Linked DNA regions of Homo sapiens: region 2 is linked to region 1. The links come from fine-mapping of genetic effects on gene expression. A gene starts in region 1. The other region holds a variant in brackets. All regions are shown on one strand. Distances are between the middles of the regions.

Region 1 (5,000 bases):
ACCCGGCTAATTTTTGTATTTTTAGTAGAGATGGGGGTTTTGCCATGTTGGCCAGGCTGGTCTCGAACTCCTGACCTCAAGTGATCCACCCGCCTTGGCTTCCCTCAGTGCTGGGATTACAGGTATGAGCCACTATGCCTGGCTGCTTTTAATTATTTTGATCACACAGATAATATATGAATACATTTTAATATAAACTCAACTATTAAATCCAAAGTCAAAGTTCTTCACCACTCCCTCCATCCCCAGTTCCTCCTCCGAGGTAATCACTTAGCTGCTTGGTACATACCTCTCCAAACATTTTAAAAAGTGCATTCACAGCTGGGCGCAGTGGCTCACGCCTGTAATCCCAGCACTTTGGGAGGCCGAGGCGGGAGGATCACGAAGTCAAGAGATCGAGACCATCCTGGCCAACATGGTGAAACCCCGTCTCTACTAAAAATACAAAAATTAGCTGGGTGTGGTGGCAGGCACCTGTAGACCCAGCTACTCGGGAGGCTGAGGCAGGAGAATAGCTTGAATCCGGGAGGCGGAGGTTGCAATGAGCTGAGATGTGCCACTGCAATCCAGCCTGGCAACAGAGCAAGACTCCGTCTCAAAAAAAAAAAAAAGTGCATTCACTTATGTATACACATGCATAGGGATATTTCTGGATCTGGGATTATTTTGTGTGTTTTCAAACAAATATTATCCTGTGAAAAGATAAATTAAGAGGGACAGAGCCCGGGTTTGGGTAATTCTGAGAGCCAGCTGGCCATCTGTTTACTTTGCTTGGTGTTCACAGCATATTTTGTGAACATTCCAGTTTTTCTGTGAGATTCTCACAGATGAATTGGTGCTGTGGGAACCATCTGGCAGACCCCAGCCACAACAGCTGCAAATCCTTACAGCCATGTCTACCAGGTCAGCCTGCACTGGGACCTGCCTGAATCAAAAGTTTGCTGCCTGAATTTGTGCATTACAATTCAGCTGGAATTCACAGATATTAAATGTTCTTTGTTGGGATTAGGAAAGGGACAATGTGCTTGCCATGTGTTATGGAACAACTGAGGACACAAACATGACCATGGTTTCCCTTCCTGAAAGAAGTAAAACATTTATTATTTTTGGATTGGTCTACATTGTAATAAAAGTTGATATGTAACAAAACATATCTACATAGTGATTTTTTTTTATTGTCAATTGTCAAAGTTTACTACCACACTAACAGAACAATGACTTTTAACATACGGGTATATCCATAGATTAGGTCTCATTAAAGCTGTTACTAAATGGGGTCTAGGGATGGGGTCTAAGGAATACAGCTTTAGGAACAAATGTGGAAATGGGGATAGATTTATTTATTCCACTCATTAATTCATTCAATATAGTTTTTTGTTGGGAGCAGACAAGGTCTCTCGCTTTGTCACCTAGGATGTGGTGCAGTGGATTCGACATCTGGGCTTAACAGATTCTCCCATCTCAGCCTCCTGAGTAGCGGGGATTACAGGCATGCGCCACCACGCCCGGCTAATTTTTGTATTTTTTTGTACAGACAGGGTCTCCCAGGTTGCCCAGGCTAGTCTCGAACTCCTGGGCTCAATCAAGCGATCCGTCCACCTTGGCCTCCCAAAGTGCTGGGATTACAATCAATATACATTTAGTACCTATTATTTATGGGCTAATCATGTGCTAATGGACTGGTGGAATCACTCTATTCCCTTTGCTCTAGATTGAAGCTTCGAGACCACCTGGGAAAATAGACAACTAATGTAATGAATATCCATAACCAGTTTCAGAGACAACCAGTAGTTTGCAAGTTATTCCACCCATTAAACGATTCCAAATGTTGGAGAAAAGGCCCCCAACTTAAAATACTCCACGGAAACGTGCTCTATACATCTATGTGGTGCTTACAATAAAAGATGAATTCCTGCGACTGAGTTGCAACCCCGAAAGAAATGATTTAGAGAAAAAAAGAAAGAAAGAAAAAGGTAAGTATGTCACCGTGCTTTTGGAAAATGCTTTTGGGATTTGTCCAAGTTCTAGAGTGGAACCCAAGGCTCCTGGGCCAGGGGACAGAAGTGATAACTAAGTAGGATGCAATTTAGTTGGAATCTTCCCTGACCTTAATCCCATAAACAGTTGCCTAGGTAAAGGCAAAGTCTACAGGCCCTAAAACAGGGTACAAGCTTTCCCTAAAACATATTAGAGAGAGGCACTTTCAACAGGACCTTGTTGCAGGATCCCTAAAAAAAAAATTCAAAACAAGGAGATTTACATGTTATTCACCTTATCATAATTTCAGAAATATTTTACTAATAAAAAAGGAGTCGTGAAGTCTGGAACACCTTAAGACGTGACGTCTGCAACACCTTAAGAACAATGATTACAAATGTATTAATATTCTCTCTGATTTTAAGGGAAAAGTGATGAAGGAACAGGAAGATGGGTGGGCGTATGTTCCCAGAAATCCCCAGAACGTCAAAAAGGAAGCGGAGGCTTTGAGTGGAGGACTACGGAGAGCGTCTACGGTTGTGCCAAAGGAAAAAAAATGTTCCTAAGAAAAGAGTATACAAAGTTGTGTTCATCAAAGTCTGGAACCCAAAGGTGTCCCTCCAAAGCTGTACACGACAGAGAAAACGCGAACTGAAAGAAGAAGCAGGTCCCAAGGGGCCAGGCGCCTCCTCCACCTCCTCCTCCTCCTAGGTACGTAGGGCAGAACTAAGGCTGACCCAGACGTAACTCAGCCCTCTCCTCACGCCAGCCGCAGCCAAGCATCCCACGGAGCCTCCCCCCGCGCCCGTCGCCGTGGCGACCGCCGGGGCCACGCAGCACCGCCCCTTCCTCGCGACGTGGCCCCGCCCTCTGAGAACCCGGAAGCGGGAGTCTCGCGCCAGCTGAGCGGCGGTCGGGCGGGGGGAGCGCGGCGGCCCAAGCTCGCTCGGCCACGCGCCCCGCCCCCTCAGAGGCCGGCCTCCCGCACGCACCGCGCAGCCTGCTGTGCCCGTGGGTCCCGAGTGCTCCGCCGCCCGCCCCGACCCGGGCCCAGCCGCCTCCACGGCCCGCGCTCGTACTGGAGCGAAGAGCGGCCTCCTGAAGGAGGGGAAGGGACGTGGGGGCGGCCACGGCAGGTGAGGGTGGGCGAAGCCCTGGGAAGCGGCTGGGTGTGCGGTATGCGGGGTTGTAGGTGTGTGTGTGTGGCGCGTGGCTGCCTTGGTTGGTGTGACTTTGTGAGTGTGTTCTGAGTGGGCCGGTCCATGTGACCACGCACGTGATCACGTGCCCTTGTGAGTGTGTGTCTGGGGCCGAATCTGGGCTGTGGGGTGGTCGGTGTGCTTGTGACCCTGCCTTTGTGTGGCTGTCACCGGTGGGACTGGCGGGGAGCTGTGTGTGAGTCTCCAGCGGGAGGTGGGGGCGGCACAGGGCTTAACCGGGGCATCCTCCTGTAAACCCATCCTGGGGCTACACGACTGCAGCCCAGGAACATTTCTTTCTTTCTTTCTTTCTTTTTTTTTTTCTCAGCAAACTTTTAAGAACTGTGAGCAGAGGCCAGTAATTTTGGAGACAGGACCTCGGCCTGAAAGTGATAGATGTCTTTGTTGTTACTGAGTGTGGGCCAGGTGTAAGGTTTGTAAACGGGGGATGAGGAACAGAGCGGGACCGGAGTGTCTCATTTTTCCTCTTCTCGTTTTCCTGGGGAGTTATAAGTTAGACATTTATGCTGCTTCCTTTGTCTCCACCTACACTGGTTCAGCTCCTTTTGGCACAAAGATTCAACAAATTAAGGAGTAACTTTTTTTTTTTTTTTTTTTTTGAGACGGAGTCTCGCTCCGTCGCCCAGGCTGGAGTGCAGTGGCGCCATCCCAGCTCACTGCAAGCTCTGTCTGCTGGGTTTACGCCATTCTCCTGCCTCAGCCTCCCGAGTAGCTGGCACTACAGGCTCCCGCCACCACGCCCGGCTAATTTTTTGTATTTTTAGTAGAGACGGGGTTTCACCGTGTTAGCCAGGATGGCCTCGATCTCCTGACCTCGTGATCCGCCCGCCTCGGCCTCCCAAAGGGCTGAGATTACAGGCGTGAGCCATCGCGGCTGGCCACTGAGGAGTAACTTAATAGCTGTGTCCAAATTCCAAAAGCTTTTTTCCCAAGAGCATGAGAAGAGATGTCACAGATGTCAGGTAGGCACCTTTTCCTCCTGTAAGGTTTAGAGATAATGCAATGAAGAAAAGAGGGATAGATCTCCCCTGAAGAGATCTAAGAAAAGGATAGCTGTGTACTTCTGTGGTGAGGGATGGAGACGTGCATTAAAAAGCCAGTTGCATCTCCCAGAGACTCTCAGCTTCTAATATTTTGTTATGGCTAGTATTTATAAGCACAGATTTTCCACAATGCACATCAACTATAGATTGAAATAAAGTAGCAGAAACCTCTGACTAATTATGCTGGTTATGTGACTTAAACATTGATAAAGGTGATTTTGTTGACTTTAAAGTGGCAGGTTCTGTTGAAGCCATGAGGGATAGGGGCATAGTCACAACTGGCAGGTTTTTTTGTTTGTTTGTTTGTTTGTTTTTTGAGACAGAGTCTCACTCTGTCGCCCAGGCTGGAGTGCAGTGGTGTGATCTCAGCTCACTGCAACCTCCGCCACCCAGGTTCAAGCAATTCTCCTGCCTCAGCCTCCTAAGTAGCTGGGATTACAGGAGCCCATCACCGCGCCCAGCTAATTTGTTTTTGTTGTTGTTGCTGTTTTGTTTGTTTTTTTGAGATGGAGTTTCGCTCTCGTTGCCCAGGCTGGAGTGCAATGGCGTGATCTCGGCTCACCGCAACCTCTGCCTCCCGGGTTCAAGTGATTCTTCTGCCTCAGCTTCCTGCGTAGCTGGGATTACAGGCATGTGCCACCACGCCTAGCTAATTTTGTATTTTTAGTAGAGACGGGGCTGCACCATGTTGGCCAGGCTGGTCTCGAACTCCTGACCTCAGGTGATCCACCTGCCTCAGCCTCCCAAAGTGCTGGGATTA
Region 2 (5,526 bases), 23 kb after region 1:
AAAAAAAAAACAAAAACATATATCTGTCACCTTTGAGCAGTAGGAATTGGCTTGCTGCCCATGGGCACCTGGCTGGAGTAGGCAGTGTAGGCTGAGGGCTGTAGAAGGCCGGGTTTCATTGGTTTGTACCCAGGTTTCCAGAATAGAAAAATGCCACAACCTCCTGAGAAGCCCAGTTCATGGTCTCTCACCTAAGTTGTGGTTCCTCACTGATGACTTTTCTGGCCCCACCACAGATGATACCACCTTTATAAGCACAAATGTTGTCTGTGGATTTAATGTAAATGTGAAAAACAAAATTATTTCAAAAACTTTACCTGTGTTTCTTCCTGCAGCTAGAAAGTTTGGGTCAGAGTGAACTGGCTTCAAGACTTACCTTGAATTGTCAAAATTCTTATGTGGAACCTCATAAAATTCGGGACATACCTGTAACTATTATGGATGTAAGCTTCCTTTTAAGTAAAATAGCTGCTTTACTTTTTAAAATGTGTATGTCAAGATCTCCTATAAAACTATTTGATAACTTTCAATGTACCTCTTCAAATGCTGCCTTGGCTTTTGTTTTTACCCTCCAGCTTTCTCAATTCCAAAATAATCTGTTTATTGCTTATCTTGGATTTCTTTCTGGCAGGAATAACACCATTGAAATCAAAATAGGCCGAGCACAGTGGCTTATGCCTGTAATCCCAGCGCTTTGGGAGGCTGAGGCAGGAGGATTGCTTGAGTCCAAGAGTTCAGGACCAGCCTGGGCAACATAGTGAGACCCTGTCTGTATTTATTAAAAAAAAATAAAAATAAAAATGAATCAAAATAAATTTAAACAAGGGAGTCTACCCATTTGATGTATTTTTGCTGTTCTCATCAATAGATATTGCACCATATATTGCACATATATGGGCAGCAAAGAGAAGGTGCTTCACAAGGGTAACAAGGGTAGAGAATCAAGAATTCCATAGTTTAATTACCACAAAAGCTTGCTTATTTTTTTATTGTGGTAAAATGTACATTTAAAATATGCCATTTTAACCATTTTTAAGTGCATAGTTCAGTGGCATTAAGTATATTCACAGTTCGGCAACCATCACCATTTTCACAACATTTTCATCATTCCAAGAAGAAATTGCATACCCATTAAACAATAACTCCTGTTCCCTTTCTTCCCCCGGCCTCTGATAATCAACGGTTTTATTTTCTGTCTATAAAAATTTACCTATTCTAGAACCTCATATAAGTAGAATCATACAACATTTATCCTTTTGTGTGGCCATTTCACTTAGCATAATGTTTCACAAGACTTATCTTGAAATGTTATACATGTGTCAGAATGTCATTTCTTTCTTTTTTTTTTTTTTTTTTTGGAAACAGGGTCTCACTCTGTTCCCCAGGCTGGAGTGCAGTGGTGCAATCTCAGCTCACTGCAACCTCTGCCTCCCGGGCCCAAACAATCCTCCCTCCTCAGCCTCCTTAGTAGCTTGGACCACAGGCTCACACCACTACGTTCGGCTAATTTTTTGTAGAGATGGGGTTTCACCATGTTGCCCATGCTGGACTCAAACTCTGGGACTCAAGCTGTCTGCCTGCCTGGGCCTCCCAAAGTGCTATGACAGGCATGAGCCACCACGCCCAGCCTATTTCTTTTTAAAGCTGAATAATATCTACCAATAAAACCAATGTTGGTTTATACCACATTTTGTTTATCCATTCATCCGTCAGTGGTCACTTGGGTTGTGTTCAGCTTTTGGCAATTGTGAATAGTGCTTCTATGAACATTGGTGTAAAAGTATATGTTTGGGCAGGGCACAGTGGCTCATTCCTGCAATCCCAGCACTTTGGGAGGCTGACTCAAGAGGATTGCTTGAGCCCAGGAATTCGAGACCAGTCTGGGCAATACAGGAGACCCTGTCTCTACTACTAATAAAGAAAATTAGGCCGGGCGCGGTGGCTCACCCCTGTAATCCCAGAACTTTGGGAGGCCAAGGCGGGTGGATCATGAGGTCAAGAGATCGAGACCATCCTGGCCAACGTGGTGAAACCCGTCTCTACTGAAAATACAAAAATTAGCCGGGCATGGTGGCACACACCTGTAGTCCCAGCTATTCGGGAGGCTGAGGCAGGAGAATTGCTTGAATCTGGGCGGTGGAGGTTGCAGTGAGCTGAGATCGCACCACTGCATTCCAGCCTGCCAATAGAGTGAGACTTCGTCTCAAAAAAAAGAAAAAAAAAAAAAGGAAAATTAGCTGGACATGGTGCCACATCCCTGTGATCCCAGCTACTTGGGAGGTTGAGGTGGGAGGATCACCTGAGCCTGGGGTGAGCCATGATCATGCCACTGCGTTCCAGCCTGGGCAACAGAGTGAGAACCTGTCAAAAAATATATGTATATTTGTTTGAGTTCCTGCTTTTAATTTTTTTTTATTTATTTTTAAATTATTTTTTAAAAATAATTTTTTGTTTTTTATTTTTATGGGTACATAGTAGATGTATCCTACTTTTAATTCTTTTGGACATATCGTTTGAAGTAGAATCACACTTTTTGAAGTACCACCATACTGTCTTCCACAGTGGCTATACCATTTCATGTTCCCACCAACAATGCACAAAGATTCCAGTTTCTCTATATCCTGGACCCTTATTTCTGGTTTTTTGGTTGATACTTATCCTAATGGATATGAATTGGTATCTCACTATGGTTTCAATTTACTTAAAAAAAAATCATATGATTATTTTGCCTTATAAATGGATTTGTTCCTAAATTCAAATAATATGGTTTTTTGTTTTTGTTTTTGTTTTTGTTTTTTTGAGACAAAGTCTCACTCAGTTGCCTAGGCTGGAGTGCAGTGGCGCGATCTTGGCTCACTGCAAGCTCCGCCTCCTGGGTTGACGCCATTCTCCTGCCTCAGCCTCCCAAGTAGCTGGGACTACAGGCACCCACCACCACGCCCAGCTAATTTTTTGTATTTTTAGTAGAGGCAGGGTTTCACCATGTTAGCCAGGATGGTCTCGATCTCCTGACCTCATGATCTGCC[C/T]GCCTCAGCCTCCCAAAGTGCTGGGATTACAGGTGTGAGCCACCGCACCTGGCCATAATATGGTATTTTTAATAATTGGTTTTTGTTGGGAAATTATTCATTATAAGCGTGTAAACAACTTCTTATCATCCTCTGCCATAATCGCTGCATTCTGACATTTGCCATAACATAGAACAAGCTTTTCAATGGTCCTCACAGGACATTTGCTCTGCCTGCCCTTCTTTCAAAGCTGTGCTCACTGCCTGGGTTCATGGTCACTGAAAACAGCCTGTAAGTTTTAGTTGGAGATGCACTTAAACATACAGATTTGGTATGGTATATTTAGTATACAATTTTTTTTGCTTATTTTACTTTTTGAAAAATTTTGTTGCATGTAAAAACGTAAATGTGTATGGGTATTGAAGGATGTCTAGAATCATATGCTGCAAACTGGTTTCCCCAAGAAAGAATAGCTTGTACTCTACATTTTTTTGGAATTTTTTTCACTGAGCCTAAATGACTTAGTTTATTGCTTTAAATTAATGATAAAAGTAAAAAGTTCTTTTGGGGCTTCGTGATCTTTTTGAAACTTATTGACATTTGCAATGATTGTTCTCTATTAATATTCTGTTAATCTACTTAGCTATATTTGAGGAAAAAGGAAATTCATGGTAGAATTTCCCCCGACCCCAGCCGGGCTTGGTGGCTCACGCCTGTAATCCCAGCACTTTGGGAGGCCGAGGTGGGCAGATCACCTGAGGTCAGGAGTTTGAGACCAGCCTGGCCAACATGGTGAAACCCCATCTCTACTAAAAATGCAAAAATTAGCCAGGCGTGATGGCGCATGCCTGTAGTCCCAGGTACTTAGGAGGCTGAGGCAGGAGAATCACTTGAGCCCAGGAGGTGGAGATTGCAGTGAGCCGAGATCACACCACTGCACTCTACCTCAAAAAAAAAAAAAGAATTTCCCCCCACCAAAAGAATGCAGGAGATGCTGTGCAGCAAAATCTGTAGCTAATGTCTTCGGTTGGAGTTATAAGTCACCAGGGATCAGCAGTGGAGGTAGTTCAGGCTGCTGGGGGTTCAGGATTGTCTTCATATGAAAGGAATACTTAGGGTAACATTTCCATAATGTGAAAAGAACATATTAAAACACTAGTTGATTACAGCTTTCTGTATGTGTGTGTGTGTTTTACCTTTCCTATGGTGCTGAAGCTTTGTGTTTTTTAAAGGTGTTTGATCAGAGTGCGCTTTCAACTGAAGCTAAAGAAGAAATGTACAAGCTGTATCCTAATGCCCGAAGAGCTCATCTGAAAACAGGAGGCAATTTCCCATACCTGTGCAGAAGTGCAGAGGTCAATCTTTATGTACAGGTAAGGCCTAGCTTGAAACCCAGAGCACTCTGAGCCCAACATATGTTTGCAACATAAAGACTTCTTTTAATGGACTAGTTAGGGAATCAGTGAACTACAGAATTCCTTGTAGAAATGAGGCATTGACTTGATAAAAGTGGTTTACATTTATAACTTGTAGGAGAATTTGAACAGGTATATTAGAGATCCCCCAGTGACTCTCTGGCCACCATCCCTTTTCTAAGGACAGCAGGCCTGCATTCACACACTGAGGTTACTATTGGTATGATGTGACCTTGCCCTCTGGACACAGTGAATTCCATCAGAGCAAGACACCAGACCTAAATGGGGTCAATCTGAGTCCTGTGAAGTGACTTCTTGATCTAATTTTAATGCATTAAAAGAAAACCCTACCAGGCGTAGTGGCTCATGCCTGTAATCTCAGCACTTTGCGAGGCTGAGGCAGGCAGATCACAAGGTCAGGAGGTCAAGACCAGCCTGGCCAATATGGTGAAACCGTCTCTACTAAAAATACAAAAAAAATTAGCTGGACGTGGTGGTGCACACCTGTAGTCCCAGCTACTCGGGAGGCTGAGGCAGAAGAATCACTTGAATCCTGGAGGCAGAGGTTGCAGTGAGCCGAGGTCACGCCATTGCACTCCAGCCTGGGCAACAGAACAAGACTCCGTCTCAAAAAAAAAGAAAAGAAAAGAAAGCCCTAACAAACACCATCCCTTCATACTCTAACTAAATGGATAATAGAATAGCAGTGAGGGGTGAGTGCCCTGGCAGTTTGGCAAGATGAATCAAGAGCCTTAAAAAACCAGTTATATCCTGGCCACGCATGGTGGCTCACACCTGTAATCCCAAAAACCAGTCATATCCCTTGATCCTGTCATCCCCTTATAGAAGACAGGATCCTAAACAGGAATACTTGATGCCCAGAGATATTCATCATAGCAGCACTAGTCACAGTAGCAGAAGATTGGAAGGACCTAACTCACAGCAGCAGAAGGGAAGGGTAAACATCTCATGAGCATGCACCATCTAAGATGTCTCAGGAGACTCTGCAGGGACTCAGGGAGACTGCTCAGGGAGTGAGGAACAAAGATCCCAAATGTGGTTTCAAAAAATTGTTTGACTTTTCTCTATTTAGTATGTCTTAGTCT

Which allele goes with the higher level. Positions count from the first base shown, and alleles are read on the strand shown. Sizes are in standard deviations (SD) of each study's normalised expression.
For the expression in tibial artery of the gene that starts at base 2,864 in region 1, allele T in region 2 goes with a higher level than allele C (moderate effect, 0.67 SD a copy in GTEx).

The links. PIP is the estimated chance that this variant, and not a neighbour inherited with it, causes the effect.
Region 2: its variant is fine-mapped to the expression of SPG21 in tibial artery (GTEx, PIP 0.93).

The regions. Positions count from the first base shown.
Region 1 is chr15:64,987,778-64,992,777 of GRCh38, reverse strand. It overlaps SPG21 (SPG21 abhydrolase domain containing, maspardin), which reads left to right and starts at 2,864. Exons shown (of 9, transcript NM_016630.7): 1 at 2,864-3,113. RefSeq lists enhancers at 2,431-2,490, 2,531-2,600, 2,656-3,155, 3,156-3,657 and silencers at 2,671-3,160, 3,281-3,330, 3,133-3,427.
Region 2 is chr15:64,964,172-64,969,697 of GRCh38, reverse strand. SPG21 (SPG21 abhydrolase domain containing, maspardin) reads left to right here. Exons shown (of 9, transcript NM_016630.7): 7 at 336-443; 8 at 4,238-4,378. Among named protein-coding and RNA genes, the nearest start is that of SPG21, 23 kb to the left of the region's middle. The variant C/T (reference allele first, on the strand shown) is at 3,027.